Linked DNA regions of Homo sapiens. The protein of the gene in region 1 purifies or fractionates together with the protein of each later gene. This does not show direct contact. Each region holds a gene or a part of one and is shown on either strand. Other genes may lie near its edges. The genes, in order: RBM18, UBR3 and SYT1.

What was found.
Region 2: the proteins of RBM18 (region 1) and UBR3 purify together in Homo sapiens (affinity purification with mass spectrometry; 3 studies listed by BioGRID and IntAct, with this or other methods). This does not show direct contact.
Region 3: the proteins of RBM18 (region 1) and SYT1 purify together in Homo sapiens (affinity purification with mass spectrometry; one large-scale study listed by BioGRID and IntAct). This does not show direct contact.

The regions. Positions count from the first base shown.
Region 1 is NC_000009.12:122,251,279-122,254,934, reverse strand, and holds part of RBM18 (probable RNA-binding protein 18), read left to right. Parts: intron 1-567; exon of another isoform or gene 568-661; intron 662-2,961; coding exon 2,962-3,088; intron 3,089-3,656.
Region 2 is NC_000002.12:169,949,324-169,952,979, reverse strand, and holds part of UBR3 (E3 ubiquitin-protein ligase UBR3), read right to left. Parts: intron 3,376-3,656; coding exon 2,915-3,375; intron 1-2,914. UniProt on the Homo sapiens protein: E3 ubiquitin-protein ligase which is a component of the N-end rule pathway. Does not bind to proteins bearing specific N-terminal residues that are destabilizing according to the N-end rule, leading to their ubiquitination and subsequent degradation.
Region 3 is NC_000012.12:78,871,213-78,874,868, forward strand, and holds part of SYT1 (synaptotagmin-1), read left to right. Parts: intron 1-3,656. UniProt on the Homo sapiens protein: Calcium sensor that participates in triggering neurotransmitter release at the synapse. May have a regulatory role in the membrane interactions during trafficking of synaptic vesicles at the active zone of the synapse.

The DNA.
Region 1 (3,656 bases):
CCAGTCAGATATCACTCCTTTCACAAAGCTCTCCTTAACCACCACCTTCCTTGTACCATTGGTCTTCATTCTGTGTGCTCGTATTCATCCCTCTGTGTACAAGCATCCCATTGTTTTGTAATTGTTTGATTACATCTCTCTCTGTCTTAACTAGAATGTGAGGTTCTTGAAGGCAGGAACCTAGTTTTATTCATCTGCATAGCCCATAAGCCTGCTTGGCTCTAGACACATTGTAGGTATCTATTTTAACATGTGTATAGATTAATTATTTCTGTGCCATTAGGCAGAAAAGCTGTCTTAAAGACCAATTACAGAAAACACTGATTAAGTTGCAGATATGTGTGTGGGGCTGGTGTGCTAATTTTCCAGCTCCTGAAGGCTGCAGGGCGCACATTTCATTAAGTGAAGCAAGCCTCTGCTGAGTAGTGTGCTCTCCCGCACTTCAGCAGCAGATAAAAGTGCTTGCAGATGTGAAAGCAAGATCCTTCAGGCTTTTTTCACTATCAGAGCCTGCAGTCCCCATCTCCAGGAAGCAAAATAGTAAACATTTCATTCCTTTTGTTTCAGTGTTCCGATAATTTTAAGAAATTATCAAACAAGAAAAGAAATCCTGGAGAAGTTGAAAGACACAAACCTAAGCAGATGTTCCTGGAATCTTAAGGTCACACTTCTTGGGCAGAATGTGTTTGTTAGCTTTACAAAGAGTAATCTTTTGTTGGTGTGTGTGTTTTTTTTTTTCTGAGTAAATTAAAATTCATTTCTTAGGAAATGCCAATCGTGTTACCTTCCTGCTTCTAAGCAGAATGGAGCTAATGAAAAGATGACCAGCCCACAGTAGCCTTAGATTGTCTTTTTTGTTTTTTTTGTGTGTGTGTGTTTTTGTGGGTTTTTTTTCTTTTTTTTTTTTGAGACGGAATCTTGCTCTGTCGCCCAGGCTGGAGTGCAGTGGTGCGATCTCGGTTCACTGCAACCTCTGCCTCCCGGATTCAAGTGATTCTCTTGCCTCAGCCTCCTGAGTAGCTGGGACTACGGGCATGCGCCACCATGCTTGGCTAATTTTTTTGTATTTTTAGTAGAGACAGGGTTTCACCATGTTAGTCAGGCTGGTCTCGAAGTCCTGACCTCAGGCAATCCACCCACCTCGGCCTCCCAAAGTGCTGAGATTACAGGCGTGAGCCACTGCGCCTGGCCTAGATTTTTTTTTTTTTTTTTTTAAGAATAGGTTTGACTCCCCATTCTGTGGCAACTGGCACGGTGTTAAGATTTGAATAGGCTTAGTAATTTGAAGATACAGCTGTGAATTAAAGACCCTGGGGGAGACTCTTCTCGCCCATCTTTGTGTGTGAGAGACTCACCCTTGCTGTAAGCCTGTTCAAAAAGTCAAGTAAAACCACACATTTGCACTTAAGGTGTCTTCGTTTCCCCTGAAGTCACTTCCTACATTCTCTCTAGTGGTTGAGGTGTCCTGATGGGAGTTGGGAAGTTAGAAAGTAGGGGATCATGGTGGTTTTACCTTTCAAAATAGACCAGATTAATATCCACAATATGCCTTGGGATCCTTGCATTTGTCCCAGTACTAAACCTGTATTATGTCTTTCTTGTTCCACTGTGTCAGACACTTGATCCAGGATATTGGACTTGCTTGTTGATGTGCATTAGTATCAAATTTAGTATAGTGTATGGTCCATTTCATATCTTTCTGCCTCCCAAAGGAAATTCTTGCTCAAGAATAAAATTTTGATGAGTTTCTCTTAGAAAACAATGTGAATATAAATGTGGCTATAACGACAACTTTACTGACTCCCTGTGGGGTAGAATTCCCAGTAATAACAGATTTAGCATGTGGGCTGATACCTTTTTAGTATCACAGGGACAGCATTGTTTAGAGAAAGCCTTGACTCCATTTGAATAGCACGGAGGATGCCAGGAGGAAGGCCAAAGGGAAAGGAAACGGGAGAGCTGTTGGTTTGTCTCACCCCCACATCAGATGACAGGAAGTCGGAATTGAGATTGGCCGCAGCAACCTGTTAAGGCCACATCTGTTTGAATAACTTAAAAGCTCTGTAGAAACCAAGTAAGTTTTGGAGTAAGAAATTTAATAGAGGATGAAGGGCAGAGTAGTGGTAAGCAATAGCTTGGAGTGAACATCCTGCCAGGAATAAATTTCTCCCTTGACCATCTGTATTCTTTACTTGACCGTACCCTAGAGTATAAACTGTTTTAAGGCAACTGAGGTTGGTTAGTTACCCATAGCTGGGTGATTTATAGGACTGGCCAGGTTCCCCTGCCCTTTGTGAAACCGGCCTCAGTCACATAGTTGTTCCACATTGTCCTCATGTTCAGTCACATCAGTCATTGAAACTCTCAAGTGCTGTGGAAGTATCACTAGCTGTGGTTTGATTAATGGCAGAGTTTCTCACAAGTGCAATTTGGGTCTAAGAATTAACTACAAAATCTAATAGGAAGATCTTCCAGGACTGTTTGTTTGTTTGTTTGTTTGCATGAATGCATATATGTTTGTTACTTTATTTTTGAGATAGGATAGGCTTTGTCTTTTGGAGAATGGGTGTGTGTTTCTGATGGAGTTATAGTTATTCACAAATGCCATTTCATTGCCAAGGAATTAAAAATAAATAAATCAACACTATTTTTGAGCTTTTCTCCAAAAGAAAAACAAATAGTGCTTGTAGGCCAGACAGCTGTTTGTAAGGTGTGGTTTTTTTGTTTGGTATTTTTGTGTTGGACAGATGCATAGCCATGACAATTCTAGTTCCCATACCAAATAGAGGCAAACAACTCTGTTTGCCAAATAAACTAACATAGCAGTTTAGAGGAAGGCAGGGGGCTGGGGCGAGAGATTTCATCCCTGGGGTAAATTATCTCCTGCTTTTATCTCACACTTCAGGCTGAGTGGCCAACAGAATTCCCAGAGCATACTCATGGACTCTTCTTTCTCCACAGATACCACCTCCTCAAGCTCCTCCAGAAGTTTGGCAAGGTAAAGCAGTTTGACTTCCTCTTCCACAAGTCAGGTGCTTTGGAGGGACAGCCTCGAGGCTACTGTTTTGTTAACTTTGAAACTAAGCAGGTAATTAAGCTTTCTCCCCATTTTATAATATTTATCAAGCTCTGTCATAATTATTTGTGCATGTCTCTTGCCTACTAGAATAGCAGTTCCCTGTAGGCAGGAGCCATGTCTGATTCATCTGTGTGCCTTACACTGAGTCCTATAAGGGATCCTCAATAAACAAATGAATTAGTGGCTTTCACAATTCACTGTCCCTTGGCCAAAGTTTAAGGCAACTGACTCACCTACATTTTTGACCAAATGCACTGGGATGCCCACATCGAGCACATGTACATCCCCCTCCCTATTCTCTTTTGTTTGTTGCTTTACTGGCTGGCCAACTGACAAAGCCTTCTTTTCTTTCAGTAGTTTTGTCCTGTGGTACAGAAACCTATCTGTGATGAGACACCCACAAAGACTCTTTTGTTATTTCTTCTCAAGGTCTCAGAACAAATGCATATAAATTTTAATGTATGTAGAAGAGCGCATTCACCTTCAACCATGATATATACATGGATCTCCTTGTATTAAAATTTAGTCCTTGAAGTGGAAGTGCATTGATAAAGAAATTGAATTTGATTGTTACTAA
Region 2 (3,656 bases), on another chromosome or scaffold:
AAGGATCTGACCACTAAGAGAGACCACTAATTAACAAAAATAACAATCTTACCTCATTTTCAACCTTCTAATTTTGTCAGTAGATTTATTACATTCTAGGCTATTACTAATTCAAACTTAATGAATGGTCATCTGAATTATATGTTACTGAATGTCCTTTCTCCCACGGAAACAAATTTTGTGTTAGTTCTTTATAACTCCAATTTAGGAATTCTCCTAAATTCTTAATCTACCATAAGCTTTTGCATATATTAATATAAATTTTTTATAACAAACTTTTTTTTTTGAGATGGAGTCTCATTCTGTCGCCAGGCTGGAGTGCAGCAGCGCGATCTCAGCTCACTGCAACCTCTGTCTCCCAGGTTCAAGCAATTCTCCTGCCTCAGCCTCCCTAGTAGCTGGGACTACAGGCACACGCCACCACGCCCAGCTAATTTTTATGTTTTTAGTAGAGACGAGGTTTCACCATGTTGGCCAGGATGGTCTTGATCTCCTGACCTTGTGATCCACTCACCTCGGCCTCCCAACAAACTTTTAATTACATCAGAGATGTAGTGTAACTATATATGTGACTAAAATTGCTCCTTATACAGGTACCAACGGATGACCTCCTAACTAACAAATCAAATAGGATGGCCAATCTTATTGAACTCCTGTAGCACTTAACAATTTTGATAAGTTTCTTGCTTTCTGAACTTCCTCTTGTGACTTCTCTAATGCCACTCACCCCAGTTTTTCTCTTACTCTGCTCAGCCATCCCTTCGTCAGTCACCTTTGTAGGTACCCCTTCCTCAGTCATTCCCTTTAATGTTTTTCCCTTAAGTTCTACATTCAGTCTTCTCATTTTCTTACTGTAAACCTTCTCCCATATACAAGGATTTACTACTACCTAGCTGCTCAAATCTGTAGCTCTAAGAATTCTCCCTTAAGTTTTAAACCCTATATCTGACTGGACACCTTCACCTGGGTGTCCCTCTTAAACTTAGTAGCGTCCAGAACTGAACAGATCACTTTTACTAATGAGCCTGGGACCCCTCCTACACTCCATTATCTTGGTAAAAGGAACATTATTCAAGTCAGAAATCAGGGCACCATTCAAGACATCTCCCTCATTTCTCACATCAACCTGATGACTGAGTCTAACAACTTGTACCTGCTAAATATCTCATACACATCTCCTCCTCTCTTTATTATCATCACTGTCTTAGTTCAGACCCTTACCACACCTGCCCCACTAGATGACTAAGTAGCTTGCTCTCCCAATTTCCAGTCTTACCCCACTCTAATCTACCCTCATGTAATTACCCTATATATTATTCCTCACTTAAAATCCTTCCACAGTTTCCCTGTAACCATTTATACCCTGTGCGAGTTAACGATACATGGTTACCTTCTTAGCCTTATGTCCTACTACTCCCATTAACACCCTGTGTACCTAAGATAGTATCTGTTACACTATGTTAACACTACTAACAAACTATCTGTTTACCAGTCTGTCTCTCCATTATAGTATCAATTCCTCGAGGTCAGGAAGTCCAACACCAGACACAGATATGTCTAGAAAACTGCTTGACTGACACCCAATGAATGAGAAACGGATCAATCAAGTAAGATCCATCTTAGGCTTGCTTCCACTGATCATTTAACCCATAACTGCCTATATTTAATTTTAAAAGTAACTAAGAAGATGAAATTATCCAGAAAATACCTCTAAAGTACACTTCAAACTGCTAAATAATGTATTAGTCATACTGCTCACAACAGTAGTCCAGATAACTCTGTTGACAATGATTTTTACCTATATAAAACAGATTGAGATGATAAAGGTCCTAGGTTCTTAAATTAAGATAATATTGATGTGATCTCTTTGGACCCTCCCTAACGGGAAATGTGTACCCTTCCCCTATAATTGTTGCTTTGGTAGACAAATTTGTCTTAAATAATAAAGAAATTAAAACAATGAATATTATTTATAACCTCAGAGAAGTGAGCAATGACTATCTTGAATTTGATCTGAAATCTTTTTTTTAAATGTCCTGGGTCTTTTAGCCTGTGTACACTCATTAGAAGGCATGCTCTTTTTTTTTTTCTTTAATAAACACTGAACCCTTTCCAAGAGTTTGACAATTATGCAGAGTTTCAATCTCTCAAGATTCACCTTGTCATGTTTATGACAGCAGGGTCAGCAATGTTGACAAGGCTCTTGGGAAACAATTTGTGACAATGCACAGTAACACAACTCTTCTGGCAAACAATGTACCACTAAAAAAAAGAACCAAACCATGCTCATAGTCCTTGACCCACAAACCCCACATAACATAGTATATATCTTGAGATTTTAAAAAAATCCCATTTTTTTTTCAAGAAAGTCAAAAGATGAAAAAAAAGTTTATAAATATAATTTAACAACAAATTATAAGCAACCTAAAGATCCAAAAGCTAGAAGCATAAGTTAGTCAGAATGTGTTTTAAAACATCACTTTTTAAAAATCAGCAATCATATATTAATAAAGATTAGAAAAGACCAAAAGAAACTAAAGCAGTTGGATTTTTATTTTGAGAAATATTTTAAATATTTTTAATATTCTCATTTAAAGCTGAACAGTTCAACTTTAACAGTAAGAGAATTATTAGATCCCTACAGCAATAAAAGCAGTAGCAATTTTTCCAAAGAGACACACAGGTTTAAGGTAGTAATTTTACATTGGGGTCAGAAAGTCTCACCTGTCCATCAATAAACTCAATACATCACATGTACAAGCACTGACTATGCTCCATTCCATTTATGTTACAAACTAATCAGCTATGACTGTTCCTGTTAAACATCCAGGTGATTATCCTCAAATGACCAAAAGGAAGAAAATATCAAATTTTCAACTATACACACGTTTAAAACATTAAAAATAAAAATTACCTTTCTTCTTTGTCCAATGTTTTCTTCTCTGCTGCAGTGACTTTTTTAGGTGGTACAGGAGGGGTCACTTTTCTACATATCTCTTCAATGATGCGTTTGTTCATTCTACTTTGCGATGCAGCTTTTAGTAAAATTCTTTCCACGGCAGTTATACCATCTCCATGACTGTATTTAGGAATTTCTGGTTGGATTAAAATTTCTATGTCATCAAGCCAAGGAGGATAGTAGGAGTTTTGTTTTCCTGAGAGTTTGTGGTGAAGTTTAATTAGCAAAGACAATATGCTTTCTTTAATTTCCAAAATGGCTGTAGTTAACTGTGGAGCTGAACCAGGAGCAGACCATTTACTTGAAGTTTTGGGACGAACCACCTGATTTGCTTCACTGCTACTGCGATTGATGATTTCCTGAAATTTCTTTCTACGTTCTGCTACTAAACTGAAAACTTGAGCTGTACCAGAATTCTACCATTAACAAAGAGAAACAAAGAAAAATCAAGAGAAGTTATTTAGCATCATTTTAAAAACATATTAGTACTATATTTTCTAAAGGGAATGCTCAGTTTCATACAAAGATTTATTCAATAGATTTGCTCTTTAAATAAATTTCTCCCTTGACCTCTCTCTCAAATATATTTAATCCCACTCAATCTAGAAACAGTAATAAGGAGGAGATCATCAGCAGTAACATCTCCTTTTCAACCTTCTGAAAACAGACAAAGCTTAAGTAGTATCTACAGCCATAT
Region 3 (3,656 bases), on another chromosome or scaffold:
CAAAATCTCTGGATATTATGAAACATCACACACGAGCTTGCTTTTAGGATAGATTATTAATAATGTATTTTTCAGACACAATTGTATGTGAGAGTTTCTGCAAGTATAAACAATAAGATAACATTACAGCAGCAGGCAACACTCACTAAAATATCAATTTTGAATTGTCTGCTCTCTCTTTGAGAAGGAGAAAGAGCTAACTGAGTATCTTTTTCCCTCATGATGTACTTACTGGTCTCCAATATCCTATGCCATACAAACAGTGGACATGGTCCTTGCTTAGCTCCTATGAAATACGGAAACTGCCTACCTGCTTATTTTTGAGGGAAAAAAAACTTTTCTAGAAAGATTTTTAGACAAATGATTTATTGGCCTTTGAAGCAAGGACAAGTGCTATAACAACTCATTAAGGGACAGTTGAGCTCTAGCAATCAGGTTTTGAGTTATCAAGATTATTAGGAAGAAAAGTTGACACAGTTTCTCAGGAAAAAGACAAGGAAGCAAAGCATTGAAATCTGTTTCTGACTTGGAGTGTCTGCCAGATCCTAGTTTACAAGGCTGGCTTTCTGCCTAATCCCTAGCATTTTCATCAGATTTGAAGACTGAATAAAGTGAACTATTGGGCATTAGAGCATATTTCTAGAGCACCGAGACCTCTTCTATAAATAGCATAACATCACTCTTCTATTTTAACCAATGTTCAGAATCCGAGGCCACAAGTTTTTATATTTAAATATGTATAAACCAGATCATTCTATGCCTGAAAGTACTAGGGTTTTATCTGTCTGTGTACAGGAAATTCTTCTGTTAAAAGCTTAGTTAACAATATGACATTACAAATAATGTACCTATTTTTAGTGGTTTTATTAAATTATAATGTTAAATTTAAAAAGCCAAGCATTCACCTTGAGCTACATCTGAGCCTGATAATTCAAAAAGTGACATTTCAGTACAAAGCCAACATACCCTTAAATTGACAAAACTGCCCTGCTTTTAAATTGTTTTGTAAAAAAGTACTTGATATGCAAGTTTCCAACGACTTGTTTTTTTTCTGGAGAATCTTAGATACTTTCTGAACCACTCTTAGACAACACAGAATGAATATTAATGACAGGAGAGAGCTGACTCCTTCAGGCAAAAGTGGATGAGACAAGTTCTTTTATGCCTTTGAGAATCTGTTTCATCATTTATATATTGAACACATAGCAACAGTTTTATTTCTCTTGATTTCTGGACTTTTAGACCTGTATGCATCGAAGCATATTACACCTCACAGCCTGAATAGGAAAGATTTGTTCAGTTCTCTGGTTATAAGAATGATATAGGAATTCCTTTGTGTTCTCTTCCTTTCTGTACATTTTATTCCTTTCTCATGTCTTCTCTTCCTACTCTGCCCTTCTTCCTTCTTTTCTTCATTCTTTTGTCTTTCCTTTCTTTTTTTGTATCTTAATTAAATATTTTCCTATAGAATCACTAAATGAAGGTTTAGTACTTTTGACCCATAGTAATCTTCACCAGCTGAATTAATTTGTGTCAACAACTAAGAAATGTAATTCTTAGTTTGTATACATTTTAGGTTAGCTTCACAAAATATATGTATAGATAAATAAAGGAGCAGCCTTTTAATTTGTTTATGTAATTGGCACACTTAAATGGAATGTGTCATCATATGAATGTTTTTAAAATTTTGCATGTAAAGGGCTTGCGGATAATTTTTAAACCGTAACTTTTTGCAGAGAGACAGAATAATGTTTTAGAGTCCAAAAAACTGGCATGTACTATTTGGCATGTTTTTCTTTATTTTCTATTTTGCCATTGCAATGGTAACAAGTTACTGTGTTCATGACAGGCGTGCAGCACTGTATTTTTATTTGTTTATTTATTTTATTGCCTTGTTTGATGTTGATAATGAAGAGGTTCTCTCTCTTAAAGATGCAATGAAGGAGACTCAAGTGTTGTTACTTGCCTGCAATTACACATTTAGAAAGCCTCTTATATTTTTTGTCTGTTGGAACTTACTGCCTCAGCACTTAATAAAGCAGGAAAAAGCATGTTTTGTAATTCTCTTACTATGTAAGAACTAGTTTGCTTTTGCTTATCTAACATCATTATTGAGTATAAGATACATAGTCTTTATTTATCCCACTGAAAAAATAAGAAAGATTTGATATACCATTATTTCTTCTGTGACTCTAATTGCAAAATAAATTGAGTTTGTGTTTTAAAATTATTCAAGGGACATTTTTGTAATCTACAAGAAAAGTCACTAAGCTTGAGTCACTAGGCTAAGTTGGCCTTTAGTCATTGCTATATCACTGTGATGTTAGATAAGTCACCTTATTTGTTTTCTTATTTGTAAACTCCATAGTTCCAAGCCACCAAGTAGGGTGCAATGAGAAGTGATTGTAATCATAAGTGTTGTAGCTTTATCACTAACTCTCCAAACTTATCTCTTATTATTCTCCTCATTGATATTCATACACACCTTCTTGCTGTTCCTTCACATAACATTAGTGGAAGTTGTTGAATCTATTGATACTTTTTATCTTCTATTCCAAGGTAGAATGGTTAAACATTCTGCTCTAAGTGAACATATCCAAACCACAATTATTATTCAATTCAAATATGAAGTCTATCAGTTGGCAATTCTTTGTGTTAAGAAACACATTTGCGAGCAATAGCTAATAGCCATACCATTGCAATGTGGAATAATATAAGTGTGTTTGTAGCTAATCTGATTTAAGAAAACAGGAATTTTAGTTGGGAAGGGCCTATAGAAAGAATACAAAATTATATGAAACATAGGATAGGTATTAAGGGAGATATTTGAATGAATACAGGTATTCATATTGTTTCTTACAATATGTCAGGCACTTTTCTATGTACTTTCCATGCTTCATCCCATTTAATATTCTCAATAACTCCTTGGGATTTGTGCTAATTTGTTTATAATTTTTAAGTGAGAAAGTAGTGGAAAAAGAATAACTGAGCAACTTCCCAGGGTCACATTATGTAGTAAGATGTAGAATTAAACCCAAGCTACCTATTTACAGAGCCAATACTCAATCATAGGTAGTCACACAATCAATAAACTCATAAATGTCAGAAGAAGAGAATAGATGGTGGCAAAGAGGTAGAGGTACCCAAAAGAGATTAAATAGTGATAGGCAAATTGATCCACTTTATAGGTTAGGTCAATATGAGCATGATGGCAATAGGATAAAAGTATGAAACTTAGAGAGCTGGATTCAGATAGCCAACTCTGGAATGGTGAACTTCAATAAGATAGTTCCCCAGGAATGAAAATGCAATAATGTTTGCAAATTGTCTGGTGCCCTGTTACTATATGGTAGATTTGACCACCTTTGCTCCTCTTTCTCTTTTTTTATTTTCAGAAATTCTTTCACTTGTAAAAATGCCACCTGACTCAAAATGCTTAAGCAAGAAAAGGGATTTTGGTGCTCATGTGACCATAAAGTTCATGAATATTCTGGCTTCAGTCATAGGTGGAAATGGGAGCTCACACCATGTGGTCAGAACCAAGCCTATTCTCCTTCCTACCACTGTACCACTAGTACTCAATAATTTAACGACTGGTATGATTATACCAGTGTGAAAAGTCTACCTATAAGAGGATATTGGCTGAGTTGATTGTT